4 separate regions of the Homo sapiens genome follow, and all the other regions are reported to be linked to region 4. The links are microRNA targets in miRTarBase. Many come from high-throughput screens and were not tested one by one. Region 4 holds a microRNA gene; each other region holds the end of a gene's coding sequence.
The links. Region 4 holds the annotated microRNA hsa-miR-576-5p (AUUCUAAUUUCUCCACGUCUUU, at 1,044-1,065, opposite strand). A microRNA usually pairs through its seed, bases 2 to 8, with sites in the 3' UTR of a target mRNA and lowers its output. Matches are read on the target gene's strand: a 7mer-m8 pairs with bases 2 to 8, a 7mer-A1 pairs with bases 2 to 7 and ends in A, and an 8mer does both.

Region 1 (3,165 bases), not on the chromosome of region 4:
CCAAAATGACTCTTAATAAGGTTCAGAGTATAAAAAATAGTTCTCACTTAAAATAACATACACCAAAAGAATATAAAAATATTGATTTATTACCAACAAAGCAGGATTTCCCAGTTTTTTCAATTACACACACACAAGCACACACAATAGCAGAATGAAATTACATTTTTCACATCTAAAGGTTTATACCTCAAAGAAAATAGGCATGTGTCCAAAAGACAATTAGAAAGCAAGAAATCTTTCCTTTTACTTTGAATATGGAAAATCTTTTAACAGAGACTCTTTCCAGGCAAACCAATGAAGATTTAGGCATAGAAAATGCTTGTCACCTTAAGGTTTTTAAATATAACTGTATTCACCAAATCAAGTTTTTACTAGAAGTTTTTACGATTTTTATGTAATTAAAAATCAACTTTTGGCCGGGTGCAGGGGCTCACGCCTATAATCCCAGCACTTTGGGAGGCCGAGGCGGGTGGATCACAAGGTCAGGAGTTCGAGACCAGCCTGGCCAATATGCTGAAACCCCATCTCTACTAAAAGTATAAAAAATTAGCTGGGTGTGGTGGGACGCGCCTGTTGTCCCAGTTACTTGGGAGGCTGAGGCAGGAGAATCGCTTGAACCCGGGAGGCGGAGGTTGCAGTAAGCCGAGATCACGCCACTGCACTCCAGCCTGGGCAACAGAGTGAGACTCCATCTCAAAAAAACAAACAAACAAACAAACAAAAAAACTTTTGTTTTAAGTGGCTGAGACTATGTGCTAGACTTACTACTGTTTAATATGCTAAAATGATACATAATTTATTCTTCACAGCTCAAAATTCAATGTAAAGCCAAATATTAATTTTGTCCAGTAGAGAAATTAAATGTTTACAAACAAAGTATGGAACAGTTGTTGGCCTATGTAAATTGAAATGTAATTGACCATTTTATTTTCAAACATGCTTAATCTTCACGTGTCTTTTTCACATTGATACTCATTTTGCAGAAATAAGATGACTGGTACTAATTTAGACAATAAACAAACTACACCAAGCACATTTTAGTAAAGATATTTTGGTGGAACGCAAAGTAATTAACGATGAAAACATTTGGTAATATCCATTTACTAATATGTTACCAAGTTCTTCAATGTTTACATGACTTGCTCATATTAGTAAAAATGTCATTTTAAAATATTTTCACACTTCATGCACTGGAGTTAGTTTAAGAAGGGAAGGCTCTTTTAAAATGTTTATAAAGAAGAAAATACCTTTTTAAAGAGAAAATGTCTAAGTGAGAGGACATAAACTTATGGCTCATTATTTTTTGACCTAGTTAAGAATATAAATTTCAATGGCTACTTAAGAATATACAAAACCCAAACTGAAAGCAATTCTTCAATTTATTCAGGCAAGCAAGTCAAAAAAATAATTTTGTCATTACTGGCACAGATCCAATCCACTGTTCAAAGACATGACTTTGGACTGTCTATTTTCCTATAAGATTTATTTTTTAAAAGAAGATAATTTGTTTGGTTCTACTAATTAGTATAACTTAGAGATAAACAAATGATTTTCCCATTTAATTCTTTTGCGGTGAAAGAAAACAGTTTAAACTAGATTTTCTAAGATAATGGGTACATCAACATTGTAAGAAAGGCCCTATAGGCTTAAGTTCTAAAAACATTACGGTTTTAAAGAAATCAATGCTTTTCCATCACTCTTTACATAACACTGAGAAATTTCAAATATAAATTGTAGAAACCAGTATATGAAATTTTAAGAAAAATCTTACTAAAAATAATTATAAAATGCTTTTAGAAATGTAAGATGTAAAATATAATTGACTTTAAATAAAATAAAAAAAAGCAACCCCTGCCCCCACACTTTAAAAGGTTATTCTTTAAAAACCCTTGTCACCTAATTTTATTCTCAGTCAATCTTTTGGTTGTATTTTGCATCATCTAGTGGCCACCTTGCAGCATTTCAAAGCAGTTCTGCTACCATTTTTGAACCCCAGTGCTTTTTTCCCCTTGAAATACCAATAAAATTATAGCATCAAGTTTCATAAAACTTTCTTTTAAAGGCCCATAAAATTCCATTTCCTACTGGAGATAAGGTAATCTTTTTTAATAGGAAGAAATGACTAGATCTGTCATAAATTATTACTATACATTAGACATTTTCATATCAATTTTTTAAAATTAAATATAACATTGGGAGAAACTAGGACTTAGGCTCTAGAGTCATCTTTAGGCTCTAAAAGTAATTAAAGTTACTCTGCAATTAAAGCTCAGGGCTACCATATAAGTAACTTCTTGTGATTAACCCTTCTTCCACTGTACCTTTGATTTGTAATATTAAGTACATTTTAACATGAGAACTGAATGACTCATGGTCAGAGTGCCAAGAACTCAAGTTCAACCAAGACTGAAGAAGACTTAACTTTTACTACCAGCTGCTATTTTGGAAAGGTCATTATAGTTTCCATTATCAACCTATTTGTATTTAAAAGCAGGTTTCCAAAAATAACTGCTTTTCGTTTTAGTGAATCTCCTTTTATTCAGTTGAGCCATACTTATAAACAGAATTTAACAAAAAAAATTCCCAAGTTCCCTCTCTTTACTTTTATTAAGAAGGTTGAGTGAATGTAATACGGCGCCGCCGCCTTTGGAAAGCCTTTAAATTCCATGTGTTTGGTTCCAGCATATGAGGGCCATTGTAGACAAACAAAACTGTCATCTTTTCAGAATAAGGAAGATTTTGCAGGAGCTGTAAGTATTAAAACAAATTGTCATATAAGCTATATACTGAGAAGTATAGTTTTCCAACCTTACATGTGTACAGTCAAATGTATTATTTTATTTGCAATATTAATAAAACTTTTTTTTTCCCACTCTGCTGCTCAGGCCGGAGTACAGAGGTGCGATCTCAGCTCAGTGCAACCTCCACCACCCAGATTCAAGAGATTCTCGTGCCTCAGCCAGCCTCCAGAGTAGCTGGGATTACAGGCATGCACCATCAGGCCCAGCTAACTTTTTGTATTTTTAGTACAGACAGGGTTTCACCATGTTGGCCAGGCTGGTCTCGAACTCCTGACCTCAGGTGATCTGCCCGCCTTGGCTTCCCAAAGTGCTGAGATTACAGGTGTGAGCCACTGTCCCCAGCCAATAAGACTCTTAAGAA
Region 2 (3,165 bases), not on the chromosome of region 4:
TGGCAGAGGCAACACAAAAACTCTGATCCTTCACATGCATCCTATGATTCTATCTCATTCTCTGGGGTTCAAAAAAAAGAGACCAATTTAAAGTTTACCAACCCCGTCCTCTTTTGAACACAGAGGTGATAAATGTGACCACGGAGACTTTTGTCTGCTTGTAGTACCCTGACAGTGCCAGCCCACAAGCTGGCTTGCTATCCCCGCTTTCCAGATGGGGAAACTGAGGCCTCCAAAGATGAAGAATGGGTTGGGCCCATTCTTCAGGGAGTAATGAAGCTGAGAGGGGAACTCCGGGGCCATCCTAACGTCACTCCAGAGCCCTGACCCTCACCAGTGCAGGCAAGTTCCAGTGCCCTGCCTTGGCCTGGGAGACCCAGCTGAGGCTCAGCTTGTGTAGGCAGAGCAGACATGGGGCTGAGATCGAACAGGGCTGCCCTATCACCTGCACTTCTGTGGAAAACAAATTTGCACATACTCTGAAGAGGACGTGTGAAGTTGTAGAGCCACAGTTTGGGGTTTCGGACTTGCTTTTTAAACTTTTAAGCTATTGTGGCACTTGGGAACATTTGGGGAACTTTTTTTTCTAAATTTAAATTAAAATGACGCTCAAAACCAATTATTAGCCTTTGGAGACAGCCTGCTTTGGGTTTTGTGGGAAGAGAGAGAGCTGGAGTAGTCAGGAGAAAAAATGTGCCCCTCTGATGGAATGTCACCCTCCCTATCCCTCCCTGGGCCTTCAGGATTCAGACAAGCTCACCGACCAGCAGGCGGAAGGAAATTACTTATGAGGAAGATGAAAATTCCATCCGGTCGGGGGCCCTTTAAATGAGACCATTATGTATGTGTGTGATTCCCTCTGAGGCCACAGGCCCCTGCAGGAGAGTGACCCCCATCGCTTGCCACAGGTCACTCTGCTGAAGCGTGGGGGAGACCCACACTGCTTGGTTTCATGCCAGGCTGCCCTGGGTCCACTGGCCAAGAGCAATTAGCCTAGAGAGGAGCACTCCTGCCGAGGGACAGCACAAATACTGCGGCCGGGCAGAGGTGGCCCAACTAGCCCGAGTCTCCGGGAGCGTCCTCAGGAGCTGAAGAACTAAAAATAACCTGGGCCTTTGTTGTGAGCAGCCAGACCACAGAGATGGAGCTGATTTCAGAGAAGCCAAGCATGCGCGAGGGTTCCGCTCACCGAGACCTGCCCTTTGGGCAAATGATTTTTCCAGAAATATGTCAGTTATTGTGCTGCTGCTGCGATTCAAAGTCAGCCCAATCCGCTCCAGCCCTCGGGGCTATCTTCCAACACACAGAGTTCTCGGAAGCTCAGCCTCCCCACCTCTTTCTTCTAGACACATTTTTTTTTGAAAACAAGAGTCCTGCATGTTTGGGGAGCTTAGGAGACAAGAGCAGCCCCCGCACTGAGAGTTCTAAAATGTGGCCACCCTGGTCGTGAATAATGACCATGTCACCCTAATTATTTGTTTAGATAACAATCTTCTCTCCCCCATCCTAAAATTCCCAGTCAGGTCTCAGTAGACAATAGCGAACAAACACTACGTGGAAGGAAGAAATTACTTGGAAAAAGGAATTCAGAGCGTCGCATCAATACTGAAGGTTTCTCAAAGCTGCAGCCCCCTGTATCCAGCATTCGGACACATGATTGGGCAGCCTTCGCTCCCCTTCCTGGTTCTTCAGTCCCACCAGGAGAAGCTGAACCAGGTCTCCAGAACCAGGTGGGCTGAGAGGCAGAGGCTTGACCGTCTTCCTCTGTCCATAGGCCATGACTGGTCTCACCTAAAGGATGCCCCAGCTCTGAAGGTCAAGGAACCAGCCTGGCCTCTTGCAAAGTCTCTCCCGATGGATAACAAGTACTGACTGGCTATGGCGGGGCCTTGGCACCATTTCCACAATGTTTCCTCCCATGTCTCTGCGCGTCTCCCTCCCTCCCCGCCCCCATCTAGTAACTTTAAGCAGTGGCTCAAGACCAGGCTGGCTGTGGATGCCACTGCTGGGGTTCTAGAAGGCAACTCTTTGTCTCCACAGACACCAAGGAACAAGAAAGGGTTTCAAGACCCCAAGTCTAGAAGTTTCCAGTGAGGCTTGCCATAAACGACAACTTCTCCACAGCCCTTTGTTCCTCAGGTGAGAATTTCAGGATGCAGACCCTAAGCTGGGGGCACGGGGGCTGTGCCAAGATTTCTTGGAACACAATAGATAAAAAAACACCACACTACACACAAGTAATGGATGAGTGGTCAGGAAATGGCTTCCCTTAAAATGGGAACCAATGAGAGGGCCTCGGTGCTAGGGTAAAAGTGAGAGGGGTTCCACAGGGCTGGGGCCGGAGGTGTTCTCCCAAAGTGCAACTTCCTTCCGGTAGAGACAAGGAGGTGCTGGCTGAAGTTCCGTACATATCGGGGGAGGTCAGGAGATGCCTCACCCTCTTCGTTCCATGTGTCCCTGCCCCTCTGGGACTATTTCTTTTCCTTGCAGTTGGTCTGGCTGGATATGTGGGAGGAGGGCGCGTTCTGGTTTGAACTGGGCTCTGCTTTAGGATCTCCAGCAGCGAGTCACATTCTGTGACCTGGGGCCCTAGGCCTGGCAGCCAAAGGCTGAGGCTTTCTCTTTGAGCAGTTCCCAGCATAAGTGGCAGCTCCAGCTTCCTGCAAGAAATGAGACGGCTTTAGTAGCAGCCCCTCTGCTAACTCTGGAGCCCCACCCCACTGGCCCTAACTTCTTGTAAATCCTGTTTCCTTTGAACTTTGGCAATGCAGAAACCAAGTCCCAGGCCTGAAAACGTGCCAGAGTCTGTGGCTCAGCAGAAAGCAGGTGCTCAGAGGAGATGGGCTCAACTCTTATCAAGACCCTCACTACTAGCGTCATGCCTCCAAACTAGTGTCGCCGGGCCTGCGCCAGTTCTCCTGGAAGCTCACACCTCCCGGTCATCTCCACTGCATGTCTGGGAAAAACTTCCTTGGCCCTCAAGTTGAAATTTCAGCTGCTTGGACTGTGCCTCAGTTTCCTCATCTGTAAAATGGCAGTCGTCGTACCTACCTTGTGGGGTTGTGATGATTAAATGAGACAAGACATGAACATGTAAACCCATTAGCATAAGGCCTGTACCATAGTGAGAGCTCAGTAAGTGCTAGTAGTAGTAGTATCTGTTGC
Region 3 (3,165 bases), not on the chromosome of region 4:
CACCTCGGCCTCCCAAAGTGCCGGGATTACAGGCGTGAGCCACTGTGCCCGGCATGTTTTCTTTAATAAGAGAAATCACATATGCACAATTCCTTTTTGTTATGTCATTGAACTGAGTCAATACACCGTGTTTATTTCAAACACCTCAGCCTTCCATACCCATACCTCCATATGTGCACACACACATGCTTGCACATACACACGTATACACACACGCACCCTACCTCCTGCTGCTAGCTTTAACTCTGAACCCGAGGCCCTTGAACTTGTGATTTCATGAAACAAGGAAGGAGTACTGAAGCTTGAGGGGCAGCATCTTCCATGGGCCTGGCAGTCTTAGCTACCAGTTGGTAGTGTTTTATGATTTTTTAAGTTATGTACCATCACCTCTTGCTGGTATCTCTAACTTCCCTCTTTTTTTCTCCTTAACAGGAAAGCTTTGAATTTTATGCACAGCAGCTAAGAAAATTGAGGGAAAACTCTTCTTGAAATAACCAGGCGATACTTTGTTTTGTATATATTTGTGATTCTGTGTCTACATGTTATTTTGAAGTATATCTGAGGGAAAAATAAATGAAAATTTTCTTTATGTACTTATGTATGTGTGATGCATGTTCAAAGTCTTATTGACCATAACTCTGTGCACTTGGTTATTGGACATTTTTGGAGTTTTTTTCTCTGGGAAAAATCGATAGTGTTTTCTTCAATGCTGCTGCTGTGTGAAGCCATACTTTTTCAGGATTCTTCCCCTAATTGGCTCTTTGGTTTCCCTGCTCTGTTTCATTTATTTCATTAAAATGTTATTCCTTTATTTAAGATTCACTTATTAGTCTGCTGTTTCTCTGAAAAATTTTAGAGCTAGGTATAGTGACCGTGAACTTTCTAACGCATAATATTCTGTGATACAGCCATTCCGTACATGTGTGAAGTCCTGCATAACTTTCGAACTTTGTTAAATGTTGGCACTAGGAGTCATCAGATCTAGGCTTCATCATTTTCCAGTGAGAAGCAGAGACCCAAAGGGCCTGTTACTTGTGCTTGGTCAGGGGACTGTCTGTCATGCCTGGAGGCTCTTCGGCACACTTCCCCATCTTTCCCTTCTGCCACTGTGGCTTCAAGCACCTCTGTTCATAGAGCGTCTCTGAAATTGAGTCTCGGTCATGACTTATCCCGAAGTAGAGCAATGTGTTTCCTCTCATTGTAGTTTCAGGACTTTGTCAGTACAAGCTCTGCCCTAGGCTTGTTACTTTATACTCATATCCTGAAAAGATGTGATTTCATCTATGAAGGGGTAAAATATTGGTTTGTATTTAATTGTTTGAAATAAAAGTGATCCCTATATTGAATCTCATGCCTGTTAATATCTACACTGTAAGTAGTGACTTCAAAAAAATTCTAAGATAGGTAGTCAGGAGAGTTTGCCATTATAAAAGGTGTCTTAATAATATGGAATATTGACCTAACTGGAGATGAGGTAATTAATTACCGAAATGTTGAAAATGTTTTGAGAACTCTCCCCATTTTGGGGTATTCCTTGTTCATTTGAATTTGGTGACTCCCTACTGTTCCAGTTTCAGTGCCAACTTGGGTCACACTGTTCACATCAGGGGAGACCTTGCCTTGGGGACGTAGGCGGGCCTCTTGCAACTTGTGCTGTTGACCTTCTGTCTTGTGGAACTCTCTCTCCTGCATCTGCTACCTGCCCGCAGATGGTGTGAGGGAGGGTTGATGGCGGGAAGCCAGGAAGTAGATGTCATCATGGTATTGGCCAGGCTTTTACTTCAACTCTTTTTGTGGCGTTAGATTTAAGGAAGCAGGGGGCATGGCCAACGTTGAGTCTTGGCCCAGTGGACATAGTGCGGCTTTCCCTTGAGCACTGCCCAGATGCAGGACCTGCACATGTTACAGGTTTGCCAAAAGCATCTTTTTTTTTTTTTTTTTTTTTGAGATAGTCTTGCTCTGTTGCTTAAGCCAGAGTGCAGTGGCGCAATCTCAGCTCACTGCAACCTCCGCCTCCTGGGTTCAAGTGATTCTTGTGCCTCAGCCTCCCACGTAGCTGAGATTACAGGCTTGCACCACCATGTTCAGCTAATTTTTGTATGGTAAAGACGGAGTTTCACCATGTTGGCCAGGTTGGTCTCGAACTCCTGGCCCCAAGTGATCCTCCCCCTGCGCTCGCTTCAGCCTCCCAAAGTGCTGGGATTACAGGTGTGAGCCACCACGCCTGGCCAAGAGCCTCACTCCTGTCTTTAGTGATTGCACTGAAGCAGGCCTCATTTTTTTGCAGTCATGCTAACCACAAGTTAGTCAACATTCACTAATTGACATTCATTAGAATAGGTCTCCAAGGTGAGGCATAACGTTGGGGTGTAATCTGGATTTCGCAGTCATCTTTTTGGGGAAACTGAAAGTACCATCTCATTTGCATGAAGTGACTCCACACTGGCCCTGTATATGGACTCTGGTAAAATGTGAGTGTGGTACAGAGGAAATAGGTAAGACCCCCTTATCTAGCCCTCTCGGCAGCAGCGGGGGGGTGTTACAAAGGACTAGCTGTTCAAATATCTTTTGTATTGTATTGATTCCCCTATTGAATATAAATATTTAAAGTATAATAACTATACTGTAGGTGGGCTTATGAGTGTTCTAAATATCTAATAGCTAAATTGAAATAAGTAGAAATATAAACAATTTAGCAGCTTTCTGTAATACATTTACACTCAAATTATAAGCAGCTAATTCTAAAAAAGATGTCACTGTAAACTATTGAGAACTATAGTATTTTATATATAATTATATGTTCATGTATTTGAACCCAAAATAATTTTAACTGAAATGCTTTGAATAAAGTATACTGTAAATATCTGTGGGCTGCTGCTGCTTTTTTTTTTTCTTTTTTAAACAAACAGTCTCACTCTGTTGCCCGGCCTGTAGAGCAGTGGCGTGATCACGGCTCATTGCAGTCTTGACCTCCCAGTCTCAGGTGATCCTCCCACCTCAGACTCCCAAGTAACTGAGACTACAGGTGCATGCCACCACGGCCAGCTAATTTTTTGTATTTTGAAGAAACAGAGTTTTGTCCGGTTGCCCAGGCTGGTCTTGAACTCCTGGGCTCAAGCAGTTTGCCCACCTTGGCCTCCCAAAATGTTGGGATTACAGGCACGA
Region 4 (3,165 bases):
TGAAGTATGGATACACGCTACAATGTGAATGAAACCTGAAAATTTGCTTAAGTGAAATAAATCAAACAAAAAAGACCATATATATTATCATATGTATATATCACATGTATATATCATATATATACCATATATATCATATATATACCATATATATTATAATATATAATATATATAATTCTATTTATATGAAAGACCCAGGCTGAGGGGAGGGGAAAATGGGGAGTGACTGAGTGTAGGATTTTCTTTTGGGATGATGAAAATGTCTAGTACTTCACAAAATTAGATAGAGCTAAATAGAAGTGGGGACTGCACAACACTGTACATGTACTAAATGCCACTGAATTATACAATTTAAAACAGTTAATTTTATGTTATGCATATTTTTCCTTAATAAAACTAAACAATTTACCATGACATTTCAATGGGGAAATAATATTCTTTTCAGCAAATGGTGCTGGAACAACTAGACATATCCACACGCAGAAGAACAAAGCTGGACCCCTTCCCTACACCACAACTAACTCAAAATGGATCATAGACATAAAATGTAAGTGCTAAAACTATAAAACTCTTAGAATACAGGAATAAATCTTCATGACTAAATGAATTTTTAGATATGACATCAAAGGTACAAGCAACAAAAGAAAAAAGATAATTTGGACTTCATCAAAATTAAGAACTTTTGTGCTCTAAAGGTTACCGTATCATCAAGAAGTAAAAAGACAACCCACAGAATGAGAGTAAATATTTGCAAATCATATATCTGATAAGGGGTTAATATCCAGAATATGTAACAAACTCTTACAACTCAACAATAAAACAACAAATAACCAAATTTAAAATGGGCAAAAGATTTGAACAGATATTTATCCAAAGAAGATAAACAAATGACCAATAAACACATGAAAAGATGCTCAACATCACAATCCCATTAGGAAAATGAAAATCAAAACAACGAGATAACATTTCACATCCACTAGGATGGTTATAACCAATCGAATGAGGATTCCAATTTTTCCACATCTTTGCCAAACCTTATTACCAAAGACGTGGAGAAATTAGAATCCTCGTTGGATTGTAAAATGGTGCAGTTACTTTGGAAAACAGTTTGGCAGTTTCTCAAAAGTTAAATACAGAGTTCTGACCCAGCAATTCTACTCAAGAGAAATGAAAACATAAACCTACACAAAAACTTGTTGACAAATGTTCACAGCAGGAGTATTCATAACAGCCAAAAAGCAGAAACAACCCAAATGTCCATCAACTCATGAATGGATAAATAAAATGTGATACATTCACATATGGAATATTTTTTGGTAACAAAAAATAATAAAGTACTGACATATGCCATAATGTGGATGAACCTTGAAAACATTATGTTAAAAGAAAGATGCAAGTAACAACCACATATTATATGATCTCTACATATAAAATGTTCAAAATAGACAAACCTGTAGAGACAGAGGATTAATGGCTGCCTAGAGCTGCGTGTGGTTGTGCGGGGAGGGTAGAATGGGAAGAAGGCTAAAACATATGAAGTTTCTATTTTGGGGTGAAGAAAATGTTCTGGAATTACATAGTAGTGATGGTTGCTACTTTGTGAATATGCTAAAAACTGCAGAACAGCACAACTTAAATAGGTGAATTTTATGGTATGTGAATTATTTCTCAAAACTGCTATTAAAAATATCATGGGCATTCTAAGAAAAACTTTTAAATGTATATATCAAGAAATAACTACTCTTGAAAAAAAATAAAGTCCAAAGATAAAAGATTACTTATATATGAACTTATTCCAAAGAACATACTACTACTCAGTTAAGATGTTTAGTTTCTTTCATGTCAAATCAACTGTTAATATTTTAAAGATTGTTCATTTTAATAAGGCTATAAGTTTTAAAGTATTAATTTTTTTATTCTATTTTGTTTACTGAATAGTTTGAAATCTGCTAGTTTACTTTAAATTCACTTTCAGAAGAAAAAATGACTGCAAATCTCTATTTGTGAACCTGTCAAAATATCAAAGCAATGATAATTGTTATAAACCCAAATAAATCAGTAAGCTAAACAGACTCATGATATTTTGCTATTTAGATTAATGCGTTCTAAGTAACGCATTAATCAGAGGTCATGCCATTACTGGCAAATAAATCAAAAAGGTATTTTTATAAAACAGTACCTGATTGAAAACTTATGTGTTAACATTCTGAACATGCTTAGAAACAGCCTTTACTAATTTCCCCACCATCTTAGTGAATAAGGTGTAAATGCCTTCACACTGTCATAAAACAAACTTCAAAATTTGGCTTCTACTTGTCCTTTCCACCTGCATCTCTCACCTGTCCCTTTACCATCCTCCCTTTTACCTTATTTTGCAGTTACACCAAACTTCTGACTCTTGACCCAATACTACATTTTTTTCTTCTGTTTATGCATTATGTCTGTTAGCCATAATTTCCTTTCTTCACATGGCAAATTACTACTCATCCTTCAAATTTCAAATCCTTTGTCAAACTTTTCCTGTATGCCCACAGAAAATCATTTCCTCTTCTATGCAGGAGCACATTCTCAATCCTGAATTAATACACTTTTCTTTTTTTTTTTTTTTTTTTGAGACAGAGTCTCACTCTTGTCACTCAGGCTGTAGTGCAGTGGCGTGATCTCAGCTCACTGCAACCTCTGTCTCCCGGGTTCAAGTGATTCTCCTGCCTCAGCCTCCAAAGCAGCTGGGATTACAGACGCCAGCCACCACGGCCGGCTAATCTTTGTATTTTTAGTAGATATGGGGTTTCGTTATGTTAGCCAGGCTGGTCTCAAACTCCTGACCTCAGGTGATCTGCCCATCTCAGCCTCCCAAAGTGCTGGGATTACAGGCGTGAGCCACCGCGCCTGCTTACACTTTTCAAGTTGTACTGTAATCATATGGTATCTGTTTCCCTATCATATTATACGTATTTGATGGCCAGAGCTATGCTAATATATTGATCTTTGGAATCCTGATACCAAGCAAAATACTGCTTTCAGCATACAAGCTGGTTTCCACTGAATCAATGGCTTTGGTACTTGTCCCATGCTTAATCCTTGGATAGCATCGATTTGCCTCAGTCACTTCACACTACAATTACTGATAATAAGTATTCTGAGATCAAATGGGGGTCAAGTATG

Region 1: the mRNA of SMC5 is a reported target of hsa-miR-576-5p. Seed matches in the 3' UTR shown: 7mer-A1 at 1,602-1,608.
Region 2: the mRNA of DPF3 is a reported target of hsa-miR-576-5p. Seed matches in the 3' UTR shown: 7mer-A1 at 584-590.
Region 3: miRTarBase lists LRPPRC as a target of hsa-miR-576-5p. Seed matches in the 3' UTR shown: 7mer-m8 at 2,331-2,337.

What each region holds. Positions count from the first base shown.
Region 1 is chr9:70,351,777-70,354,941 of GRCh38, reverse strand. It overlaps SMC5 (structural maintenance of chromosomes 5), which reads right to left. Exons shown (of 25, transcript NM_015110.4): 25 at 69-2,751. The coding sequence ends at 2,611. Among named protein-coding and RNA genes, the nearest start is that of KLF9-DT, 61 kb to the left of the region's middle.
Region 2 is chr14:72,616,708-72,619,872 of GRCh38, forward strand. It overlaps DPF3 (double PHD fingers 3), which reads right to left. Exons shown (of 11, transcript NM_001280542.3): 11 at 1-2,660. The coding sequence ends at 2,590. It also overlaps a transcript of RGS6 not described here. Among named protein-coding and RNA genes, the nearest start is that of MIR7843, 100 kb to the left of the region's middle. RefSeq lists an enhancer at 1,969-3,165.
Region 3 is chr2:43,885,924-43,889,088 of GRCh38, reverse strand. It overlaps LRPPRC (leucine rich pentatricopeptide repeat containing), which reads left to right. Exons shown (of 38, transcript NM_133259.4): 38 at 433-2,865. The coding sequence ends at 489. Among named protein-coding and RNA genes, the nearest start is that of ABCG8, 49 kb to the right of the region's middle.
Region 4 is chr4:109,486,613-109,489,777 of GRCh38, reverse strand. It overlaps MIR576 (microRNA 576), which reads right to left and starts at 1,080; the gene lies at 983-1,080. The region is part of intron 4 of SEC24B (SEC24 homolog B, COPII component); the gene reads right to left.